Linked DNA regions of Homo sapiens: region 2 is reported to be linked to region 1. Evidence: microRNA targets listed by miRTarBase, many of them from high-throughput screens and not tested one by one. Region 1 holds a microRNA gene; the other region holds the end of a gene's coding sequence.

Region 1 (5,381 bases):
TATACACGTTCTTTTTCTTCTAGACCCTTGGCTTCTGCGTTCGAAGAGTCCTGTAGGTAACCCCCAGCTGATCCAGTTCAGTAGAGAAGTGATTGACTTGCTGAAAAGCCAGCCATCTTGTGTCATACCCATCAGTCATTTCATCCCATCCTATCACCATCATTTTGCAAAGCAGTGCCGAGTGTCAGACTACGGATACTCCAAGCTGATTGAGTTATTAGAAGCAGTGCCTCATGTATTGCAGGTAAGGCGTGTCACGGGATTACTTGTTTACAGGCAGGAATGTTCCTCCATGGCTTTGGCTGCCTCCATCAAAGAAACAGTTTAATTCCTAAGAAGTCAGTTCTGGGCAGAACATCCACTAAAAACTTTCTTCAGAGGGCAGGAATAACACACACAGGCGGCTTCTCAATTTTTCAGAACGCTGCTAGTTTCCAGTTTTAGAGGAACTCCTTGGAGGACTGAGGAGTATTTTCCCTCTAAGCTCTATAGACCTTCTTCATCCCAGCACAGCTTTCTCCAGAACTGTTCATGATTACAAGGAAGCTCCCATGAATAGCCACATACTTGTATGTTGGTGCCTATGTGAGAGTCAAGGGCTTAACCTTTCTTCTAAATTTAACTAGTTGGAGACAAGTTACTGGGCTAGAGTGTAGCACTGGATCCTATGAAGACTTTTACCAGTTAACTCACAGTGTTATAACAGCTTCCCACTCACTAAAAACGGCTTGAAAAACTTGTAGACCAATTTGTCTGGACAACCAATACAGTTTTCATTTCTGTACTCACGACTTTTCTTTTCAAAAGATTACACTTTTCATTTTTATACTCAACGACTGTTTGGGAGAAGGTGTGCCAGGCCAAAAACGATAAGAGTTTCAGAAGGCCTTGGACATTTGTTCCTTTTGACCAACTACATTTTGTTGATCGACATGTGTTTCAAATTGCACACATTCTACATAAAGGGAGTCATGCTCTGAGGCTAGTAACGAGAGGGTGAGCCAGCAGCAAGGAAGTCGCTGTCTGCTGAGGTCTTATGTGTATAAATAAACTATTTGCTTTGCAGATTCTTGGAATGGGCTCCAAACGTCTGCTGACCCTTACCCACAGGGCCCAGGTGAAGCGCTTTACTCAGGATTTACTAAAACTTCTCAAATCCCAGGCCAGCAAACAGGTCATTGTGAGAGAATTCTCACAGGCTTATCACTGGTGAGTTGATGAAAAGAACAGAAATGAAAGTAAATATTTTAGGACATTTTATCTTCTGCCAAACTCTAAATAGTTATCTAGTATTTCTATTAAGCATTCTTTTGGAAAACTTGTAGTAGTTTTTTGTTTTTTTTTTTTTTTTTTTGAGACGGAGTCTCGCTCTGTCGCCCAGTGGCACGATCTTGGCTCACTGCAAGCTCCGCCTCCCGGGTTTATGCCGTTGTCCTGCCTCAGCCTCCAGAGTAGCTGGGACTACAGGCGCCCGCCACCACACCCGGCTTATTTTTTCTATTTTTTAGTAGAGACGGGGTTTCACCATGTTAGCCAGGATGGTCGCGATCTCTTGACCTCGTGATCCGTCCACCTCGGCCTCCCAAAGTGCTGGGATTACAGGCGTGAGCCCCAGCGCCCGGCCGGAAAACTTGTAGTTCTTCTACCGATGATACTACTCATTCCGTATCCACTTCCGTTGTTAAAACCTAGGTGTTTCTCAAAGGACTGGGATGTCACTGAATATGGTGTTTGTGAGTTGATTGACATCGTATCAGAGATTCCAGACACAACCATCTGCTTGTCCCAACAAGATAATGAAATGGTGATTTGTATCCCCAAAAGAGGTATGTGACTTAACATTTGCTGGAAGGATATTGTCTATCTCCTGTTATTTTAACATAGTGTGGCATGGAAGATGTGGTTTTCCCTCCCTGTCCGTGCTTCCTGAAGATTCCACAGAAAGCACAGTGTGAAAACTGCTGCTCTTTGGATTCTGTGTTCTTCAAAGTAGGTGAAGCTGTTCTCAAGAACAAAAGCAGGCTGGCTTTTTAGAATTGACTCTAAGGGGAAAAAGGGGCATCATCAGCACTTTGCTCAAATGCCTTCTGCAGCCTGGCTGTGGCTACATGAGCCTTAGTCATCCAGTTGAGAATCTGTCACCGTGCCTGTTGGCTTTGCTCTTCTGTTGAACTCTGAGCTACTTTATTTACTGTGCACACTTGAGAAGGGAAGACAACTCGAATGTTTTTTTTTCTTTTGCCTTTCAAATTTTAATAGTTGAAGTCAGAACTGCACAGGTCCAGTTACGGGTAGAAAGTACAGTATTTGAGGGATGCGAAACTCATGGATACTGGGGGCCAATTTTTCGTGTCTGCAGTTTCCGCGGGGCAGACCGCAAGACTTGAGTAGGTGCGGATTTTGGTATCCAGGCAGGGTCCTGGACCCGATCCCTTGAGAACACCAAGGGGTGACTGTATGGTCGTATCCTCCTTCTATTATCTGGTTCTTAAACGGTGCTCCTGCAGAACATTGATGTCCATGAAATCATAGAATTCCAGGGCCCATTCTCACTTAAAAATTAATAGAAACAATCTCAGCTTAAGCTTTCCCTCCTGTTTATTTTTGTTCAACTTTTGAAGCCTGATTCTCTCTTCTGCTAGCAAGTTTTAACTGAAGATCAGATGAATAAACAAAAAAAGTGGGGATATTCAGAAGCGTGATTTCATGGGAATAATTTCTAGAGTACTTGCTTAAGTACAGGGACCTGGGTGTGTGTCATGTTAATAGATATGGGGCAGGGGCTAGAAAATTGTTTCTAGCTTATAAGATGACATTGTTTCTAGCTTATAAGATGAATATATATGAATTTCATAATATAATAATATCATAACTTCCTGGTGTTCTGCCCTGGAACATGTTTGAGAACCACTTGCAAAGAGGGAAGAGTATATGTGTTTGTTTTAGGTTGTGTGTGTTTGGAAGGCAAGGATGATATCGTTTATAAATTCCCAAAAGGATTTACTCTAGTGTGGATGTTGAACACAAATGGGTAGAAAAAAACTGTGATTTTATGTTTTTTGGTTTTTTTAAAAGAACGCACTCAGGATGAAATAGAAAGGACAAAACAGTTCTCCAAGGATGTCGTTGATTTGCTGCGTCACCAACCCCATTTCCGGATGCCCTTTAATAAATTTATCCCTTCTTACCATCACCACTTTGGCCGGCAGTGCAAACTTGCGTACTATGGGTTTACCAAACTACTTGAACTTTTTGAAGCCATACCTGATACTTTACAAGTGAGTGAAGAAATTCTAATTTTATAAAGTATTTTTCTGAACAACGTATAGGAAATACTTTTTCACGTTCCAGACCTGTTTTTCTGGGAAGTAGGGAGTTACGAAAGAGGATGAAAATCTAAGCTATTCCAGTCAGAGAAGCCATATTCCTGACTCATTAGTATTTTTAGATAAATATGGCTTTTTCCTTCAATAAAGGATTATTCAAACTTGTTTTGGGGGTAATTATTGAAAAAAAGATTCAGTAGGTTTTCTTTTTTTTGTTTGTTTGTTTTTGTTTTTTGAGACGGAGTTTCTTTCTTGTCGCCCAGGCTGGAGTGCAATGGCGCAATCTTGGCTCACTGCAACCTCCGCCTGCGGGTTCAAGCAGTTCACTTGCCTCAACCTCCCGAGTAGCTGGGGATTACAGGTGCCCGCCACCATGCCCAGCTAATTTTTCTATTTTTAGTAGAGATGGTGTTTCACCACGTTGGCCAGGCTGGTCTTGAGCTCCTGACCTCAGTTGATCCGCCTGTCTCAGCCTCCCAGAGTGCTGGGATTACAGGCGTGAGCCACCACACCTGCTGATTTCTTACACTGAATATTTGTTCATTACTTTTATACTTTTAAAATCCTTCGTGTTGAAGGTAGGTCTGAGTACATGAGGTAACATCAGTGCTAAGCTGTTCGCTGTTGCTAAGTTAAACCAAATTTCTGTTGTTGATTTTATTTTCTTTTTTTACTACTGAAGTGCTTTTTAAAAATTGTTTTATTGTGGCACAATACACATAACATAGAACTTACCTTCGTAACTATCTTTATATCTCCTGTCCAGTAGTGGTCAGCACATTCACATTGTTATGCAACCGATCTTCTGAACTTTTTCATCTTACACAACTGAAACTTTATACCCATTCAGTAACGCTGACTTGTTTTTTCATTACTAGCTGCATACTTTTTTTGCTATTCTGTAAACACCCGTGATTTGTTTATTTTCCCTTTCCTCCCCCCGTGTGTTTTCAAAGGTATTGGAATGTGGAGAAGAAAAGATCCTTACTCTGACAGAGGTGGAGCGGTTCAAAGCTCTAGCTGCCCAGTTTGTTAAACTCCTTCGGTCCCAAAAAGATAACTGCCTTATGATGACAGATCTCCTTACAGAATATGCTAAAACTTTTGGTTATACATTTCGTCTCCAAGACTATGATGTCAGTTCCATTTCGGCTTTAACTCAGAAACTCTGCCATGTCGTGAAGGTAAATGTTTTTTTTTTTTTTTTTTTTTTTCCCTCATGGGATAAAACTCACAGTGACCTAATTCTCATTAGGACGTTTGCGTGTGCTGTAGCGTTTCTTTATTTACACCTTGAACTACTTAACTGTCACAGCATTATGACTCGTTTTGTGTCATTAGTGCTTATTAGGTAATAGAAGCCTTGGTTTGGAAGTTGAGAGTTTTGGTCTTCCTCTTGTGTGTTTCTGAATGGCCTTGCCAAAGCAATGCCTTTGTGAACTGATGAGGTCACTCTTCACCCCAGGGTTCGGTCATGAGGTGCAGCTGCCTCAGCACTGCTGGCCTGAGCTTGACTCCTTCCAGTGTGAGTTTTGCCTGTGACGTTCTTGGGAGCCCGTAATCACACAGTGTCCTCTCCCTCCACATTCTCACCCACTTAGGAGTAGGCTTAGGAGCAAGCGAGGGTGCAGAGTGGCCTTTGTCACTGGCAGAGCTGTAGTAGAGAGGGCAGCTCGTGCTGTTTGCTGTCCTGGACTGCACTTGACCCTTCCTGTCCTAGGCAGAGCAGCTGCCAGTTTTCGGCCTCCTCCCCCACAGGACCAGAAGAAGTCACTGCCAGGAGGAAGGAATGGAAAGGGAAGCATGAAGGACGGCACCCTCAGTTACAGGCCCATTACTAGCTGCACACATTTCTGTGTCATTTAATTCCGTAAACAGCCAGAACGGGTTCACTCTCCCTTTCCTTCCCACTGTGGGGTTTTTTTGGAGTTGGAGTCTTGCTCTGTGGCCCAGGCTAGAGTGCAGTGGTGCGATCTTGGCTCACTGCAACCTCCGCCTCCCAGGTTCAAGAGATTCTTCTTCCTCAGCCTCCTGGGTAGCTGGGATTACAGGCGC
Region 2 (5,381 bases), not on the chromosome of region 1:
AGAACAACAGGCCTGGGGCAGGGCTCATGCTGTTCTCCCTCTTGACCATCAGAACAACCACCTAACCACCCAGTGCCCAGCTGCCCAGGGCCCTCCTAGATCAAAGGGATGCCCTGCCCGTGTGGTCTATGACTCCACCCCTGCTCTAACCACCCAGTGCCCAGCTGCCCAGAGCCCTCCTAGATCAAAGGGACGTCCTGCCCGTGTGGTCTGACTCCACCCCTGCTCTAACCACCCAGTGCCCAGCTGCCCAGGGCCCTCCTAGGTCAAAGGGACGTCCTGCCCGTGTGGTCTATGACTCCACCCCTGCTCTAACCACCCAGTGCCCAGCTGCCCAGGGCCCTCCTAGGTCAAAGGGACGTCCTGCCCGTGTGGTCTATGACTCTATCCCCGCTTTCTGCTATTTCCTCTTTCATGCAGAACCTCAAGTGCTAATTTGGACATTCTGGTTCCAACATAGTGGAGCAATGGGTTACATCTCTGTCTCCAAGAGAAAGAGAAGGGAAAAGACATAAGCACAAGGTCCACAGTTGTTCAGAGCATCTCTGTCTCCAAGAGAAAGAGAAGGGAAAGACATAAGCACAAGGTCCACAGTTGTTCAGAGTCAGGTTGCAAGTGGAGCCCCTGGTGACGGGCATCTGACAGAGAGCTGGGGCACAGCAGGGTTAGGGTTAGGATGAGGTTTGCAAGGAGCTCGAATGGTGGGAGAGCATCCTGATGCCCAGCAGCAGCAGGGAACCAGAAGGAAGGGGTTTCTGCAGACGGATCAAGGAGGCTCACTGATTCCCAGAGACCATTACCCTTCATATGTCCAGGCCCCTGGCTTGAAGACCAGCTCTCCTCATCCCACTATGAGGTTGGCCAATGACTGTCCCTACTCCAGCCTGGTTTGTAATTACAGACAGGCAAACGTGAGTCTCCAACAACAGTTAAAAAAGAAAAAAAAAAAGAGATACAGCAAGAAATGAAAGATCAACATGATCAAACTGATAAATCACCTCTAGAGGAGTAAGTCCCCACATCCCTTCCTCTTTCTGGCCGTTTCCTTCTTTGTTCAAGGAAGGGCCAGAATCCACGTTCCCACCTCCGATGAAGTAAAATTTTTAAAAATTCTAATTAGGATCCTCAGAAAAGTCTATAGTACTGCAACCACAGAAAATAACAGTATATGCAGGTGTGATGATTAGTACTGTGTCAACTTGATTGGCTTGAAGGATGCAAAGTATCATTCCTGGGTGTGTCTGTGTGGCTGTTGCCAAAGGAGATTAACATTTGAGTCAGTGGACTGGGAGAGGCACACCCACCCTCAGTCTGGGTGGGCACCATCTATTCAGCTGCCAGCTCGACTAGGATAAAAGCAGGCAGAGGAACACGGAAGGACTGGACTGGCTGAGTCTTCCGGCCTCTATCTTTCTCCCATGCTTTGCTTCCGGCCCTCGAACACAGGACTCCCAGTTCTTCAGCTTTTGCACTCTTGGATTGACACCAGTGGTTTGAAAGGGGTTCTTGGGCCTTCAGTCACAAACTGAAGGCTGCACTGTCAGCTTCCCTACTTTTGAGGTTTTGGGACTCGGACTGGCTTCCTTGCTTCTCAGGTTGCAGATGCCCTACTGTGGGACTTCACCTTGCGATCCTGTGAGTCAATACTCCTTAATAAACTCCCTTTCATATATATATATCTATCCTATTAGTCCTGTCCCTCTACAGAACCCTGACGAATACAGCAGGAAGGAAAATTCAGAGATCAGTAAAGAGAGCATGAAATTATCTTAAAATATATAACTGCCAAAATAAAAAATTGGAAGGCAGAATGTAAAAAATATCCCAACAAGCACATACAATAAAAGAGAAAACATAAGCTCTTTGGGAGACTGGTCCCAGAATTTCAAGATCTAAATAACATCTGTGCTCTGAACAGATAACTGAGAATGAAAAAAAAATATTTTCTGCCCCTTAGAAAGTTGAATGTGGGAAAATTATGCCAAAAACGTTAACCGCAATCTTCAAGGCCCTATTCTCTTATGTACTTGGAGCCAGCCACTTCTCCATTTGTCCATTCCAATTTCACATTTATTAATGAAAAATAATGCCTTCTCTACATCTATTGTGACTGTCACAGAATCAAGCAGTAATACAAATATTTGCTGAAAGTAAACACATGATGTTAATAAAGAAAAAAGGTTCTTTTCTTAAGATTTTGAAAAGAACATATTCAAGAATTGGAATCCTACACAGGATGCAGAAGCAATGCTAAGGATAAAATATCCTGACTACCTTTATTGACATGATTTGTGTTTACCAGCTCATTAAAATCTATGTTTCAAATTCCCTGGATTTTCCCAAGTTCCAGACTGGTAAAAAGTATTTTTACATACACATTTGATGCTCACATTACAAACTTAATATCTATAAACTTGAAACTTGTTTTGCACAAGTCTATGGCTTTACTACTTTTCAAGACAAAAGTCACATATTAAAATACAAACTACTCAAAAGCAAATAGTTGTCAAGAATGTGGTTTACAAGACAGATCTTACAGATAATACAGACTATATTATGATTTATCTGTTTGAAAACAGAAAGTAGTGTATTATACTGAATTCTGGTATAAGGTGCGCAGGAAACTTTACTTACAATCCTTTATTTTCATAAGGTAAACACCAAAGTATTTCTCACATATATTACCACCAGATTTTTTTTAAACCAAATTCCGGTTTAAAAATCACACACTGACAACACAGAAATACGAAATGCTAGGAAAAGTCTAGCATATGAAGGAAAAACATGTCTTATGCATTCTAATATAATTTTTTACAATCTAGCATAAAGGCAAATGCGGTTTTTTTAAAAATGCAGTCCATATACAATTATAGAAAAAACATTAGTCAAGCCACCTAATATAACCAATTTCACAGATAGCACTCATTTAATATAATGTCCAAAAATTTCCAAGTAAGTGTCTACGTATCAGTTAGAATAATGCCCACAAGGATCTCCAAACTACAAAATATCAGCAAGTAAATGAAAATCACACATTTCTCTTTGAAAGACTGAAGCTTGACTATGAGTTAAAAGGCAACAACTATGAACTAACTTTCTTTAAAATGACTTAAACTGCCCAATCTAGAGCAATACATGTTTCCTAGCTATACATGCAAACTGGACTGTGTGGTAAAAATGACTCAGTTACTTAAAAAAAGCAGAAAAGATCCAAAATAACCAGAGCTCAAGCTAAGCTGGTGAAACCACAGAGACACTGAAGCCCAGCAACTCCCAAGAAGCTGAGGATTAAGATTAAAAATAAACTCTGGATACTGAATCCTATATCAACACTCTGAATTTATATTTATTGTTAGTAATTTCTATTATTCTTTTCTTTGGGTAAAAAAAAATGTTTTAAAAAGAACCAATGTTTTGGAATAAGCAATGTAACTCTGATCATTCTGCTATGTGACTACCAAAAAGGCTGTTGTTCTTTTAGCCCTACCACTTGGTAAGATAGAAAGCTCTCCACACACAAGGCCCAGAGAAGGCTGATATCACAAGTCAGTGTGAGTTACACTCTTCTCATGCAATGGAGCTACTAAAATACATACATTTGGTCTTACAAAAAAATTACAAAACTAACAAATCTTTTTCTCCAGAATTATAAAAGATAGAATCTATGAATCAGTACTAATGTGATCACAGAAAAATAGCAAACTGAAGTCAAAAAGCACAGGCTGCCCATCATAGAGTCCCCAGTCTATTTAATATTTTCGACCTGCTCTGAGGATGGAGGGTGTCAACACCTTAGAATACCATGATGGGCTTTAAAACTGGGTAAAGAATCATCCCTAGGGTTAGGGCAAATGTAACTTCACTTATTGCTTACACACAGGAAAAAATCTGTTTCCTTTTCCAAGATATTCTTTTAAGGATTACTTGACAGTGGTTCTTTTAAAGGTATCAAAAGATGTCCTAAAAAAAAAAAAAAAAACCCTCTTTGGAATTCTCTCGGAATTCCAGAAAGATTATCTGGCAATTCATTCCTCCACCCCATCAAAATTTTTCCTTTGAAAAATTACAACTGGCAACTCACATAAGATTTAATCAACTTACTTAAAATAAGGGAGGGCTTCTCAATAATGTTTCCCCACTAGAAAACTAAGAAATTCAGTGATACTCAGTGCCAGTAATTAAGTGGTACATATCATAAAAATTCAAACTTGGACGCAGGTGCGTCACACCCAGAAAAGATTTTATACATTTATAAGCTTGTGCTTTCACACTTTATAAGCAACACAGGTTAGTTTCCACTTCAGTTTTCATTTTTAGTGAGTACCGTGCATGTTGCATGAGGGACGGTCATCAAACAGTCTCTCTTACGCAGACTTCAGTGTTTCGTCAGAGCCGAAAAAGAAACAGCCTTCTCTTTTTCTCTATGAAGATTCTCTCCACTTTGGGAAAACAATCTTCTATGCAATGAAGGTCTTGTGGAACTATGTAAACAAATCATACAACTGAATAGAATTTTAGAGGTCAATCAGGAACTAGAAGAAAACCATGGTGTGGATGAGCCCAGCAGTTCCCTTCCCCACAACGTCTGCCTCCAGGTGACCCTTCAACAGCACACAGGCAGCACGAACTTCACACTCAGCAATCTGCTCTTCCTATTTCCCCCTTTCAAACAGGAGACTTATTTTTCTCTGTAATAAAGCAAGTAGTATTTCAGGGGATCTGGCAGAGGGAGGCTCAGGACCTTCTGGCGTAGGAAGTTCACTGGGGGGTCTGGCTTTGTTTCCGGCGGGGTCTTCTCTTCTTCTTCCCTCCGTTCCTCTTCCAAGTCTTCACAGCTGTTGTCATCTGAGGGGTTGGAAATCCGACTGGCAAAGACTTCTTTGTCCAAAAAGACAATCGTTTCCATTCGACGGCGGCGAACTCTCCTTCGTTTAAACCTGGGGGTGTTCTTTAGTCCGTTTCCGTTTTTGCTCACAGTTTCCTGATGAATAATCTTTTTAATGGTGCCCCGGATGGCGATGCGAGCCAAGTCCTGGAGGCTGCGAACTGCCACTGGTGCTGCAGCACAGAAGAGTGAGACACAGTCAAATGCATCGGAGTGACACCACCACAACGCCTACACACCTAAGACCCGTAGCATCATTTCAATTAACTGGCAAATTTATGAATATGTTACAAGAATATGAGAGCATGCTAAGCAAATGTCAATTAGTGCTCTAATTTACAATCATATGGTACTTTTCAAAAGATATTTCCAAATGCATCAATTCTTAACTTTGAAAGGGAAAGGAAGCAATATTGCTTGGCTATATTAATCAGTGGTGGAATCAACACCTGGGTCACAATTTGTCTTCCTGACACAGCCCAGTTTCATTATTCTA

What was found. Region 1 holds the annotated microRNA hsa-miR-6506-3p (UCGUAUCAGAGAUUCCAGACAC, at 1,749-1,770, shown strand). A microRNA usually pairs through its seed, bases 2 to 8, with sites in the 3' UTR of a target mRNA and lowers its output. Matches are read on the target gene's strand: a 7mer-m8 pairs with bases 2 to 8, a 7mer-A1 pairs with bases 2 to 7 and ends in A, and an 8mer does both.
Region 2: miRTarBase lists PCMTD2 as a target of hsa-miR-6506-3p. Seed matches in the 3' UTR shown: 7mer-m8 at 2,964-2,970.

What each region holds. Positions count from the first base shown.
Region 1 is chr16:15,607,420-15,612,800 of GRCh38, reverse strand. MIR6506 (microRNA 6506) reads left to right here and starts at 1,706; the gene lies at 1,706-1,771. It overlaps MARF1 (meiosis regulator and mRNA stability factor 1), which reads left to right. Exons shown (of 27, transcript NM_014647.4): 17 at 24-244; 18 at 1,067-1,209; 19 at 1,693-1,826; 20 at 3,076-3,278; 21 at 4,283-4,510. RefSeq lists an enhancer at 2,035-2,329.
Region 2 is chr20:64,272,898-64,278,278 of GRCh38, reverse strand. PCMTD2 (protein-L-isoaspartate (D-aspartate) O-methyltransferase domain containing 2) reads right to left here. Exons shown (of 6, transcript NM_018257.3): 6 at 2,053-5,058. The coding sequence ends at 4,679. Among named protein-coding and RNA genes, the nearest start is that of PCMTD2, 20 kb to the right of the region's middle.